Linked DNA regions of Homo sapiens: region 2 is reported to be linked to region 1. The links are microRNA targets in miRTarBase. Many come from high-throughput screens and were not tested one by one. Region 1 holds a microRNA gene; the other region holds the end of a gene's coding sequence.

Evidence for each region. Region 1 holds the annotated microRNA hsa-miR-1323 (UCAAAACUGAGGGGCAUUUUCU, at 5,096-5,117, opposite strand). A microRNA usually pairs through its seed, bases 2 to 8, with sites in the 3' UTR of a target mRNA and lowers its output. Matches are read on the target gene's strand: a 7mer-m8 pairs with bases 2 to 8, a 7mer-A1 pairs with bases 2 to 7 and ends in A, and an 8mer does both.
Region 2: miRTarBase lists OTUD7A as a target of hsa-miR-1323. Seed matches in the 3' UTR shown: 7mer-A1 at 1,986-1,992 and 7mer-m8 at 2,458-2,464.

Annotation. Positions count from the first base shown.
Region 1 is chr19:53,669,973-53,677,094 of GRCh38, reverse strand. MIR1323 (microRNA 1323) reads right to left here and starts at 5,127; the gene lies at 5,055-5,127. MIR498 (microRNA 498) reads right to left here and starts at 2,898; the gene lies at 2,775-2,898. It overlaps MIR520E (microRNA 520e), which reads right to left and starts at 1,384; the gene lies at 1,298-1,384. All of the region lies in intron 2 of LOC107985342 (a long non-coding RNA gene), which reads right to left. RefSeq lists an enhancer at 7,051-7,122.
Region 2 is chr15:31,476,957-31,484,078 of GRCh38, reverse strand. It overlaps OTUD7A (OTU deubiquitinase 7A), which reads left to right. Exons shown (of 13, transcript NM_001382637.1): 13 at 1-7,122. The coding sequence ends at 785. Among named protein-coding and RNA genes, the nearest start is that of KLF13, 150 kb to the right of the region's middle.

The DNA.
Region 1 (7,122 bases):
TGTGATTGAGATGGATTTTCTTTACAATAGTTTATATTAGGCACAGCAAACATTTTAGATCTTGCCAAGCAACCTGTATTCAGAGGCGAGGTTTTGCCTGTTGGAATGGTACATTGGAACCGCTACCCACAGGAAACAGGATAAATGGTCCAGCTGTAGTCAAAAGAACTCACTAGGGTTGTTGGCATTAGTGGTTGAGGGTTGAATCAACTATAAGCTTCTCACAGAGGAAGCAGGTCTATTCTGAGAAATGATGGTAAGCTGTTAGGAAGGAAAAATTTTCAGTGTCAGGGACAAGTAGATTAAAATAAAAAGACAAATGAACAGGAAAAAAAAAATCCCCATTGGGGACTGCAGAACAAGACTGGACAGGCCGGGCGTGGTGGCTCTCGTCTGTAATCCCGGCACTTTGGGAGGCTGAGGTGGGTGGATCACGGAGGTCAGGAGTTCGAGACCAGCCTGACCGACATGGTGAAACCCCATCTCTAGTAAAAACACAAAAATTAGCTGGTCATGGTGGCAGGCGCCTGTCATTCTAGCTACTTGGGAGGCTGAGGTGAGAGAACTCCTTGAACTCAGGAGGCAGAGGTTGCAGTGAGCTGAGATTGCACCATTGCACTCTAGCCTGAGTGACAAGAGCCAAGCTCTGTCTCAAAAAGACTGGATAGACTTGGAGGCTTATTTACTCTCTTAATGAAGGAAACATGGTTTGGATTCATTAAACTAAATTTATAGGAGGCCATTGTTTGACCAACACAAATGGTGTCTCTGGAACCAGGTGCCATGTAATGTATTTTTTTTTAAGAGATGGGATCTTGCTATGTTGGCCCAGGCTGGAGTGCAGTGGCTATTCAAAGGTGTCATTAGTGCACGGTATAGCATTGAAATCAAGAGACTCTCCCACCCCAGCCTCTGCAGTAGCTGGGGCTGTGTGTCCCACTATGCTTGATCATGTCAACTATCTTTAAAATGGGCACGGTGGCTCACACCTGTAGGATTGCTTGAGCTCAGGAGTTGAGACCATCCTGGCCAGGGTGAGGCCCCATCTCTACAAAAAATTGAAAAATCTACCAAATATGGCGGCACACCCCTATATTATAGTCCCAGCTACTCGGCAGGCTGAGGCATAGAGGACCAGTTCATCCCAGGAGTTCTAGGTTGGAAGGGCAACTGCATTCCAGCCTGGGTGGAGACCCTCATCTTGGAGTAAAAACAAAACCTCACATCACCCAAGTCTGATTATAAGTATACTCTGCAGGTGTGTTACAAACATCAGCATCAACCTCAAGGTTGCTTTTCTCAAACAGTAACCCTCAAAAAGGAAGCACTTTCTTTCCTTTCAGACAACAGAAACTGCTTCCATCTTGAGGGTCACAGCAGGAGACAGTCTTGCTCCAGCACTCTGGGTGTTTATTGGTTTCCTTGGATTCTAAAACCTTGACCAGGCTGAAATGAACACAAAAATAAAGATACAGCCAAACATTCATTTGCCCTGTTTGCATGTGTTCTGGAATCCCAAATTATAAGCCCATTAAATGAACATCTCGGGTTCCTTGCGTGAAAATCTCAACAGGTTGCCCTTATGAATCAAGAAGCAATCCTCCTGAGTTTTGTCCCCCGAAAGAAAAAGCAGCGACTACTATACATACCTTAAATTTAACCAAGAGAACTGGCTAGATTTATAGAGAACAGCAATGAATTTTGAGCCAAGTGTTCACCTAAGTTCCAGTACACCTAAGTTCCAGTCCTGATGGGAGGATCCAAAATGGAATCTGAGCTGTTTAAGAATATATATTGTCAGTCAGGCGTGGTGGTGCACACCTGTAATCCCAGCTACTCGGGAGGCCGAGGCAGGAGAATTGCTTGAACCCAGGAGGCAGAGGTTGCAGTGAGCCGAGATCATGCCATTGCACTCCAGCTTGGGCCACAAGAGTGAATCTCCGTCTCAAAAAAAAAAAAGTACAAAAATTAGGAATATACATGGTCAGCCTGGGCAGGGTAGCTCACGCCTGTAATCTCAGCACTTTGAGAGGCCGAGGCGGGACTCCTGAGGTCAGGAGTTCAAGACCACCTTGGTCAATATGGCGAAACCCCACCTCTACTAAAAATACAAAAATTAGCCGGGTGTGGTGGAGGGTAATCCCGGCTACTCGGGAGGCTGAGGCAGGAAAATCGCTTGAACCCGGGAGGCGGAGGTTGCAGTGAGCTGAGATTCATGCCACTGTACTCCAGCTAGGGCAACAAGAGTGAAACTCCATCTCAAAAAAAAGAAAAAAAAAAAAAAATATATATATATATATATATATACACATTGTCATGCACACAAATATTCTCCAGGATAGACCACAGGCTAGGCCATAAAACCTCAACAGAATTTAAAGAGAAATATACAAGTATGAGTAGGGAGTGGTGGCTGACACCTGTAATTCCAGCACTTTGGGAGGCTGAGGCAGGAGGATGCTTGAGCCCCGGAGGTTGAGAGGCTGCAGTGAGCTGTGAACATGACACTGCACACCAGTCTAGGCAAGAGTGAGACCGCATCTCTATTTGTATTAAATAAGCTATATTAAAAAAAAATTACACTCCTGAAGACCTTTCAGGCAGGGAAATTCTCAGGCAATTTACTCACTGTAGCTTCATGAAATTACCAAGACGCTTATGACTATTTCCGTTAAAATGAATTTTCTAAGTACATTTCCTGGATCAACAGCATCCAGAAGTAAACACAGGAATCTGATTTCATGCTTGTTTAAAAAACTATTAACATTGCCATCAACTTCCTTAGACGATTGCTCTCAAACTGTGAGCTTCAAGCTCTGGAGGTGCTTTTCATCCAGTTATAGAAAAACGCCCCCTGGCTTGAAATCACAGCCTGAGCTTCACTTCCCAAGGAGGGTTTGGGGCTTGAGCATTCTCAGGGTCCATCTGAAATCAGAGTGCAAACAAAAGGCATCCCAGAGCAGTCCACTCTCAATAATAAGCAGAATTAGGCAGAAGTAAGTAGAAGTTTCAAATAAGTTTGCAAACCAACTCAATGGACATCTACTGAACCCTCCCCAACATTCAAATGCACACATAGCATAGGACGGGACAGACGTTATGAGACACATAATACACGAGGCATACAATGGAGAAGGACCAAAGTACATTATGTTCAATCACCACCATAAAATGCAATTAGAAATCATTGTTGAAGACAGGCACGGTGGCTCACGCCTCTTATCCCAGCACTTTGCGAGGCGGAGGTGGGCAGACCACCTGAGGTCAGGAGTTCGAGACCAGCCTGGCCAACATGGTGAAACCCTGTCTCTACTAAAAATACAAAAATTAGCTGGGTGTAGTGGCGGGCGCCTGTAATCCCAGCTACTGGGGATGCTGAGGCAGGAGAATTGCTTGAACCCGGGAGGCAGAGGTCGCAGTGAGGCAAGATCACACTACTGCACTACAGCATGGGTGACAGAGAGAGACTCCATCTCAAAAAAAAAAAACTCTCAAATGGTCAGGCAGGATGGCTCAAGCCTGTAGTCCCAGCACTTTGGAAGGTGGAGGCAGGAGGATTGCTTGAGTCCAGGAGTTTGAGACCAACCTGGGCAACATAGTGAGACCCTGTCTAAATACATAGAGAGATAGGCAGGAAACATGGTGAAACTCCATTTCTACTAAAAATACAAAAAATTGGCCAGGGGCAGTGACTCAAGCCTGTAATCCCAGCACTTTGGGAGGCCGAGGCAGGCAGATCACGAGATCAGGAGACCGAGACCACCCTGGCTAACACAGTGAAACCCCGTCTCTACTAAAAATACAAAAAAATTAGCTGGGCGTGGTGGCGGGCACCTGTAGTCCCAGCTAGTCGGGAGGCTGAGGCAGGAGAATGGCATGAATCAAGGAGGCGGAGCTTGCAGTGATCCGAGATCACACCACTGCACTCCAGCCTGGGCAACAGAGCAAGACTCCATCTCAAAAAATAAAAAAAATAAAAAAATAAAAAAAAATTAGCCGGGCATGGTGGTGCACACCTGTAATCCCAGCTACTTGGGAGGCTGAGGCAGGAGAATCACTTGAACCCAGGAGGCAGAGGTTGCAGTGAGCCGAGATTGTGCCACTGCACTCCAGTTTAGGCAACAAGAGCGAAACCCTGTCTCAAAAAAAAAAAAAGAAAGAAAAAAAGAAAATGCTTAGACATTTACATTGAGACTAAGAAAAATGGCTCCCCAGATCCCAACCCAGGTCTATGGCACCAAACAAAATCTGTGGGTGGGCCCCAACAAGCTGCTTCAGCCAAGCTTCTGGGTTTTTGTCATAAATTTAAGAACCTCTGGGAATGGGGGCACGTGCATCTGTAATACCAGCTACTTGGAGGCTGAGGCAGGATGATCACTTGAGCCCAGGAGGTTGAGACTGCAGTGAGCTATAGTCGCACCATTGTACTCAAGGCTGGAAGACAGAACCCCTGGTCCATGATATCCTGGGTAGAAACCAGGACATCTACTAAATAGATGGACTGGTATGGGGGGCAGAAGGGAAAGGAAACCTTCACAGGAAGCACTTTTTTTTTTTTTTGAGTCTCGCTCTGTCACCCAGGTTGCAGTACAGTGCCATTATCTTGGCTCACTGCAACCTCTGCCTCCTGGGTTCAAGCGATGCTCCTGTCTGCACCTCCCAAGTAGCTGGGATTACAGGCACATGCCACCATGTCCAGCTAATTTTTGTATTTTTAGTAGAGACAGGGTTTCAAGTGCCTCGCCTGCCTCCCAAAGTGCTGGGACTACAGGCGCGAGCCACCCCACCCGCCTTAGGAAGCACATACTAAGGAGCCAAGTTAACTGCAATTCCTGGGGTCTCAGAACAATGTTGCATAACAGACATTTTTGCTTTGCATTAGAGGGATTTTTGCCTAGGAGAGCGCTTAGAAAATGGAATGCATTCAACGTGAGAAAGCTGATTGCAGTGGAGAGAAAAAGAAACAATAGAAAAGCAAAGGCCAGTCCACTGGGTGCATCCATGTGGTGCAATGCGATGGGGGACTGGGGATGGGTTATGATGAGGATTCACAATTGACATCCCCAAAACTGGGTGCACTTTCCTTTCAAACCACAGAAAATGCCCCTCAGTTTTGAGGACCTCAGTCTGAATGTCATGTCTGACTTCAAACTCTTCCTACGTGGTTAACTCACACTAGGGTTCGCTGTCCTCACACTGCAGATGGAGGACGTTCACACAGCACTCATGCAGAAGCTCCCAGCCAGATCTTGAAAAAAAATAACCTCAAAGAATCCTCAGGCTGCCCAGGGAGTTGCTAGGAAAAGGCAGACACACCAGCATTTACACAAATTCAGTTACATCACTAGTGGTAGGTTTCACATAAAAACCTTTGATTTATGAGAAGGCTATGCACATGTTACACATCCAGTCAGAACCAATCATGCACTCTAATCATACACTTTAATTTCAAATTTTTTTTTTTTTTTGAGACAGAGTTTCACTCTTGTTGCCCAGGCTGGAGTGCAGCGGTGCGATCTCAGCTCACTGCAACCTCTGCACCCCATGTTCAAGCCATTCTCCTCGTCTACTCAGTCTCCTGAGTAGCTGGGACTTCAGGGGCCCGCCACTATGCCAGGCTAATTTTTGTATTTTTAGTGGAGATGGGGTTTCACCATATTGGCCAGGCTGCTCTCGAACTCCTGACCTTGTGATCCGCCCGCCTCAGCCTCCCAAAGTGCTAGAATTACAGGCAGGAGCCACGGCACCCGGCCGTTTTTGGTTTTAAATTTCTCAGCATTACCTGTGAAAGAATCCAAGTGTACATTTCCACAGTCCTGTCTATGAACACAGAAGAAGGAGTGATTGGCAGCAAACTGATGCTTCAATGCCATGATAGGAGCAAGTGGGCTTCAAAACTATCCTAATACCTGTCCTTTTTTTTTTTGAGACAGAGTCTCGCTCTGTCGCCCAGGGTGAAGTGCAGTGGCACGATCTCGGCTCACTACAAGCTCCGCCTCCTGGGTTCATGCCATTCTCCTGCCTCAGCCTCCCCAGCAGCTGGGACTACAGGCGCCTGCCACCACGCCCGGCTAATTTTTTTGTATTTTTTTAGTAGAGACGGGGTTTCACCGTGTTAGCCAGGATGATCCACCCGCCTCAGCCTCCCAAAGTGCTGGGATTACAGGCGTGAGCCACCACGCCCGACCAATATCTGTCTTCTTGATGCAAATCCAAGTTTAGCATCCTCATTTGGGCATTCATTTGTTAATCTATTCTGCAGTCTTCTGATCTACCTCTTATGCTACTCTTCTTTGCAATTTTACTGTAAGGCAAGAAATTCCTAGTCTTCAGTAACCTGGAGTTAAGATACCAGTCCCCATCAGTTACAATCAAGGACTCACCTCAGCACTGAAAATGCCTGGGTCCCACACGTCACAGGCAATGTGCCAGTATGTTCTTATCAGACTCCAGAAAGCACTCCCAGATTGCATGTCACCAAGGAGACAGTGATCACAAGCCCCAGGGAAAACCTGCAAGGTAGCATAGAACCCATGTCCCTCCACAGGCAGTCCTCCTACAGCTCAACAGAAGACAGTGTTGGAATGTGTTGAATTCTGACATTCTGTTCTACCACCTCACGGGGACAGCGCCTGTAAAAGCCTTTGGGAGAGTGTGGCTGGGAAATGGGCACATTACTTCTCAGTGCACATCCAGCAAGTGATCCTCCATGTGTCAAAAAATCTTATGCTTGCTGGGCGCGGTGGCTCACACCTGTAATCCCAGCACTTTGGGAGACTGAGGTGGGAGGATCAACTGAGGTCAGGAGTTTAAGACCAGCCTGGCCAGCATGGTGGCACCCCATCTCCACTAAAAACACAAAACATAAGCCAGGCACGGCTGTAATCTCAGCTACTTGGGCGGCTGATGCAGGAGAATTGCTTGAACCCGGGAGGCAGAGGTTGCAGTGAGCTGAGATCACTGCACTGCACTCCAGGCTGGGCAATAGAGTGGGATCCTGTCTCAAAAAAAAAAAAAGAAAAATAAGGCCGGGCGCGGTGGCTCACGCCTGTAATCCCAGCACTTTGGGAATCCGAGGCGGGCAGATCACAAGGTCGGGAGTTTGAGACCAGCCTGGCCAAC
Region 2 (7,122 bases), not on the chromosome of region 1:
GCGCCGAGCAGGAGCAGCGGCGCCGCGACGCCGCTACTGCGGCCGCCGCTGCCGCCGCCGCCGCCGCCGCCACGGCCAAGCGGCCGCCGCGCAGACCGGAGACGGAGGGCGTGCCGGTCCCGGAGCGCGCCTCTCCGGGCCCACCCACGCAGCTGGTGCTCAAGCTCAAGGAGCGGCCGAGCCCCGGGCCCGCGGCAGGGCGTGCGGCGCGGGCGGCGGCGGGCGGCACGGCCTCCCCGGGGGGAGGCGCGCGGCGTGCGAGCGCCAGCGGACCAGTGCCTGGCCGCAGCCCCCCGGCGCCAGCGCGCCAGAGCGTCATCCACGTGCAGGCGTCGGGCGCGCGGGACGAGGCGTGCGCGCCGGCCGTGGGGGCGCTGCGGCCGTGCGCCACGTACCCGCAGCAGAACCGCTCGCTGTCGTCGCAGAGCTACAGCCCGGCGCGCGCCGCCGCCCTGCGCACCGTCAACACGGTCGAGTCGCTGGCGCGCGCGGTGCCCGGGGCCCTACCGGGCGCGGCGGGGACGGCGGGGGCGGCCGAGCACAAGTCGCAGACCTACACCAACGGCTTCGGCGCCCTGCGCGACGGCCTGGAGTTCGCCGACGCCGACGCGCCGACCGCGCGCTCGAACGGTGAGTGCGGCCGTGGCGGCCCGGGGCCGGTGCAGCGGCGCTGCCAGCGCGAGAACTGTGCGTTCTACGGGCGCGCCGAGACCGAGCACTACTGCTCCTACTGCTACCGCGAGGAGCTGCGGCGGCGGCGCGAGGCGCGCGGGGCCCGGCCCTGAGCGGCGCGGCGCGGCGCGGGCGGCGAGGTTCTACCTTCGAGGATTTCTTTTCCATTGTGTCGGTGTCTTTTTTACATGCCCTGGTCCACCGGAAGGCCGGCGCCTCCTCTGTCAGTGCCGTGTACGTGTTTGGTCAAACGTTCCTAATGGTGCCTGAACCTACACTGACGCCACTCAGGTAGTAGACGGATAGGAAACAAGTCATACTGTTGGAAGTGGGTGTGCTAGCCTAGCATCTGCCTCGTACCTGTGGAAACTCAATAGCCATTGCAAGAGTATTTTTGTTCCTCAGTAAGAGAAATAAAGAAATTCGCAGCCCTTTGTTTTAAGAAGGGAGTGTTTTACATGCTTTTTTTGCTTTTTTTTTTTTCTCCTACCCTAGCGATGACCTCTTCCAGGTAGCGGTCCCTTGTGCGCGGTTGGTAGTACCCAGGGCTTAGAGCGAGCGCGCACCCGGGGCTGCGGTGGAGGCTCCTCTGTGAGCTCTACCTGCCTCCCATCCCGAGGCCTAGGAGAAGGCGGGTACCTGGCCGCCAGCTGACGCCCTGGTGGTCACTGTGGCCCTTTAGAAACACACAGCTCCATTTCATAAGCAAAACCTCCTCCCCCAGCCCCGGCTCAAGCACCATTCACACTGCCATCCAAGCCGCGGGCGGCCGTGGAAAGGGCACTGGACCACCCGTCTCGCGGGCGCCGTGAGGTACAGCGATGGCTCCCAGTGCCGGGCAGTTCAGGTGACAGGAGCTTTCCAAAGACACCTAGGGTCCAAAAAGCAGGGTTCCCATCTCACAATTTGGATTTGCTCATAGAGGAGCAGATAGGACAGGCTGCTCACATTTCTCCTTTGAAGGCACTTCCACAGTGGACTGTCGCTGGCGGGCCCCTGGGCGGTGACCATCGGTGCCCCGGGAGACAGCGAGGAATTGACCCTTTGGTCACTGTGTAAGCCCCCACTAGGCTGCTGCTCTTTCCAAAGGGAAGGGGCTGGGGGAACCAGGAAGGAAGCCCACCCCCACACCTGCATCTGTCTGGGTTCAGCCAGGTAAAGGGACTCACTGTGATCGTGGCCCCTCCACGGGGCAGGACGACCCTGCCTCCGTCTCGTGACACAATGAGGGAGCAGCCCGATCCCTGAGCGGTCTCTTTTTTGGTGCCTCCTACATTTCTTGAGGAAAAAAAAAATGTGTCCTTAGCTACCCTGTTTTGAGCAGCAATATGCAGCCTCTTCCTTCCAAGATTACCTCCGGAGAACACCGTTCTTGGCCAAGGACACTGAGGAGCTAAATCTGCCTCACTAAGGAACGAGCTTGTTTCCAAGAAATGAGGATAAGATGGGTAAAATCCTCACTAACAAAGAATACTATAAAACCTGTGAGAGCCTTAGAATAGCTTCTAATAATCCTAGGACAGGAGAAAGCGCCTGGCTTTGCTGTGAGTGTATCCTCAGAAAAAGCAGGAGGTCGACCATCTCTTCACTGGAGCCAGCTTCTCCTCTAGAAACGATGCTTTTTTCCCTAACTAAAGAGCAGCAAAAACAAAAAAAAAGGGGGGGCGAGGGGATTTTTTTTACTTGTTTGAGAAATTATAATAAAATAATTGAGTATCTCCTGTGAGTAATGCCTTTTTGTTTTTAATTATTCCACAGCAGGTGGAGTTTTCAGTAATTTGTTCAAGTTTTGCATAAGTGGTTCCTTAAATCAAAAATTATTTATTAAATAGGATCTTTAAGAAATTTTTTGAAAGTTTTACTTTTCCTGCTGAACAATATTTTCAATGTGTGGTAATTACTGTACTAACATCCATGTCCCTAATATTACTGGGGTTTCTTTTATTACTCAGAAAACAAAAGTGGTTTTTTAAAAATCTCATGGAGAGGGTCTGTGGCAGCTTTCTGGACTGATTCTTCGTGTCACGCTGAGCAGCTGCTTTGGCATCCAAAGCTGTGGGATCACAGAAAGTGTTGCTTCAGGTGTGGATGCCAGCCACTCCTCATGCTCGTCACTCTTAAAAGATTGAGACACCCAACCTTAAAAATGCTCCAATAATCCATTCAGAAACCAAACTCATATGCACAAGATGTCAAGGAGGCATAAAGTCAATTCTTGCTTGTTTTTTTCATTTCTTAATGTAAAAACAGCCAACCAGAAATTTCTAAAACTGGCTATGCTAATTCAGATATTTTCTTTCTCACGCTATCTGCCAGGTTTGTCTAATTTAAAAAATAAAAAAATAAAACAGAATAAAAACCGTCCATTGTAATAGAGGAAAACCTTCCAAACCAGGCAGAGTACGTAATTATCAAAACACCAGGACCTATTCTACCCTTGCATTTCCAAGTTACCTCCACCCATCACCATCTGATGACAGATGTGCCCTAAATAAGAGCCTGAGATAAAGCCACTGGCTGCATCCTGCACCCCAGCTTCTCAATGTGGTAACGAGGCGCCAGACGCCTGTAGACACCTGCTCCAGGCTGATACATTACCACTCAGTCCACATGACTTAGGAATAGCCATTTCCTTTTGTGAGAGAGCTGGATCCATCCTTCCTCTAAACAGTATTAAAAATGCAAAAGGGAGAGAGCGGATGGTCATATTAAATGTGCTAGTCCCGTGCACCGACAGCATGCTCCTTGAGAAGAGGCGTGTAGACCTCGTCCCTGGCCAGAGACCAACTTCAGCAGGCTGGCCAGAAACTATTAAAAACTGTGTTGACTGCATGTGGGCCAAGGGCTTCCCTCGTGTTCCATGGCGTGAGGGCCCTTTGTGGAGCAGGGAGAAAGGGAAGAAGGTGAGTCCTACCGGGGTGCATGGCCCTGCTGCCCTAGCTGACCCTGCCTGAGAGCAGCCTTCCCCACCTGATCTGGCCACACTTCCCTTTCTAGGAAGGACAGGTGTCTCCAAGGGACTGCAGGTTTCCAGAGGATCCCAGATACTTCTAAACCCCTGCGAAGGTTATTTCAGAAATTTACTTTACATTTCCTGCACATTTGTTATCTGGGTAAATGATTTTTTTAAAATATTGTTAAGGGAAGGTGTTTTTCAGTGTATTCTGTTGGTAGACTTTATGCTGTGTTACGTTGAAATTTTACAAGCCAAGTTTAAACTGTACTATAAAAATTATTTTTGTATTATTTTCAGAACATGCCACAGAGCAATATTTTGCACCCGTTATTGCCACAGGGTTGTCCCTTGGAAGGGTAACTGGAGGTGGGAAGGAGCTCCACTGTGGGCTCCGGGGGGTTAAACGCTTTTTGCTGCTTGTTCAAATACCTTCTGAAAGTGGGAATGTATCAGTGTCTTTTTTTATTGAAAGCTTGATTTCCTTTTTTCTGTTCATGGATTTTGGTACTGCACCTTTCCTCTTAAATGAATACTTTGTATTCACTAAATTACTGTGGACCTTTTCATACCTATTACCACCCAGTGGCATTTGAATCTATTTACAAATCGAATGTTTTCCCAAATGATTTAATTTACTACTTCTCGTAGCTTACTGTCAAGAATTGGGGGTGCTGAAGATAAAAGGACTCTCCATGCCCCCCAGGTGCACACCTCAGGGTGTGGACATCCTCCATGCAGAGCCCGCCCTGTCTCTGGGGAGGGGTCATGGGCCCATCACCCCCCCCCCCCACTTAGTGTCCACAAACTTATTTTGCGAACTATTCTACTTTGCAAAAATAAACTTAAAATATACTTCCCATTGGTTAAGATAAAAGGGCTGTACTTATCAGTGGTGGGAAATTTGTACAAGAAAAAACAGACTTTTCCAAATCCATGTGTGTAAGTTCCATTCCATGTGAGTCTTTTATTTACGAAGAGACCTGGAGTAAAAGCTGAAGGCATCTACTGTATGTTTGGGGCTCCTTTCTTTATGGCCATGATTTTTTTTCTCCTCATCTTGGTGTGGACTTTAAAATTAAGTACCCCCAGTGTTCTGTCCTTTTTCTTTCCTCAGTGCTTCTAATAGATAAGAAGAAATGTGTTTCTGTGGCTGAGCAAGCCCTGCTGGGCCAGACAGACCTTACCAGCCCTGGCTTCATCCTCGCTGGGCTGCAGAGGCGGCCCCTGCTCTAGTTGAGTCCGGTTCTGCTGCCAGCTGAGGACAGACACACCGTATGAAGGGCCTAGAGGTGGCTGGCATGCCAGGGAGCAGGTGGCCCCTTCCAAAACGCCTTAAAGTGGTGGCTCTCTAGAGATCTGAGGCACCACCTTCCCATTTACTCCTGACTCTAAACTCTAGCTGGCCTGTTTTAGTGTGGCTGGCCGGGGCAGTGACCAGCGCTCAGCTTTGTTCTTGTTTAATTCAAGTCCACCCTGTTGCCCGTGTCCTCTCCACAGCTCTGGGTCTGTTGGCCCGGAGTGTATTTCTGCCAGTGCTGCCTCACTGACTCGGGAGTGGGTCCTGGGTAGTTCACGATAGAGAGGCCAGCACACGCCATGGGGAGAGCCCCCCACGCTCACCCCAGGAGGCCCTGCGGCACATCCAGGCTGGACCACTCTGCAAGCTTCTGTCACAAAAGACAGCTCCGGGCACTGTGCAAATTGGCCTGTTAGCAGTTATGCAGGTCCCTTCTTTGCCAAAAGATCTATTATTCCTCCCCACTGCACCCCCAGCAGAAAAGAGCGAGGGAGATGCCCTGCAGGGACCCCTTGGGAACAACAGTTATGTGCAGTCTGTGCAGTATGAAGAACTTGGCCCCACCAGGCTGAGCCGAAGACACACGTAGTTGCAGAGTAGCACTGAAGCCATCATCTCCAACCATGCTAGTAATGTTACTGTTTCTATTTATTTTGCCAAATGATTTGTTGAAAATTGCATTTTTGCTATTTTAATCTTGCCAAAAAAGGGGGCCTCACTAATCCTAATTATGTACATACAGAATGATGCACATTGCTTGCATCTTTTTATTCCTCCCAAAGAGCATATCAAGGATATATATATACATAATTTGTTAGTTTAACATAAGGCGAAGAGTACCATTTGGTTTTAAGAGTAAATATAGGCTGAATTTATTCAAGACCAAAGCAACCTATTTAATGAGGACAAATGAGTGAAACCAGCTGTTTTAGAATTTATCTGCAGACACTGGAGTGCTCCTTTAAACGAAGAAACAGCCTCCCATGGCAGAGGAAAAGCCAGGTCCTTACAAAGGCCTCTCCCATCCCAGTACTTCTTCTGCCTGCTGCTCTGCCCTGGGACGTAGGCCTTCCTGCCGTTTCTAGTCACAGGCACCCTCCTGCCTCAGGGCCTTTGCACATGCCATTCCTTCTACCTGAACATTCTTCCCCAGAGAGCCACATGGTTCACCCCTCACTACCTGCCAGTCTTTGCTCCAATGTCACCTTTCAACGAGGCCTTCCCTGACTTATTTAAAAGGACAACACACCCCACCCTCCCTCCCTACCCACCTCTCTGCATCTTCTTCTTGTGCACCTATCACCATCTGAGTGCTGCAGATGTTAATCATTCATCCATTTATTTGATTCTCGCCTCCCCATCTCCCATAGACTGTAAGCTCCATGTGGGCAGGAACTTTTATATGTCTTGCTCATTGCTGTATCCTGGTGCCTACAACAGTGCCTGACACATATTAGGCACTGGATAAGTATTTATTGAAAAAAGGAAATTAAATCAGTAAATTGAAAACTATTAAGAGGCCAGAAAATGTCAATTTCAGCTTTCATCAAATCTAGGTTCTATTATTGTGAGAACTTTAGCTGACCCAGTGACCTGGCTCCTATGGGTACAAGATGGTTAGATACACCGGGCAGCAGCGGTGGCTTCTGTTCACAGACAAGTGAATGCCTGCCCTGCCGCTAGCCCCACCTCACAAATATGAGGCTCACTGTTCGCAGGGGAGCATTTTGGAACCAGCTGGGATGAAGACAGTTTTCTGCAGGTAGCTTTTGTAGCCAGATGCACAGTAGTGGGTTCCCATCACTCCATGAGGTCACTGTAGACCTGGACCATTCCAGAGAATCCTTTGTAATCAGTCTTTAGGTGTCTCCCAGTCCTTCCCAGTTCAACACGGGTGGCAGCAGATGGCCCAGCCCAGGGAAAGTCCACCTGACCATTAGAAGGACTCATCCTCCAGCCACCAAAGCAAGGCTGCAGAGGAAGAGGAGCTTGTCACAAACATTAACCGGCTCAGGGCTGGGTAACTGCATTGACAAATTTGGAAGCAGCAGGGCCAGAGAGCCAAGGCCCCCGGGTATCCCCATTGGCCACTGGTGGAGGTGCACTGGAAGGTCAGGGCCTTGACACCACAGAGCCAAGCAACACACACCTCCTTGGGCCCAGGCCCCAGCACGGTGGCCCTCCAGTGCTGGCAGGT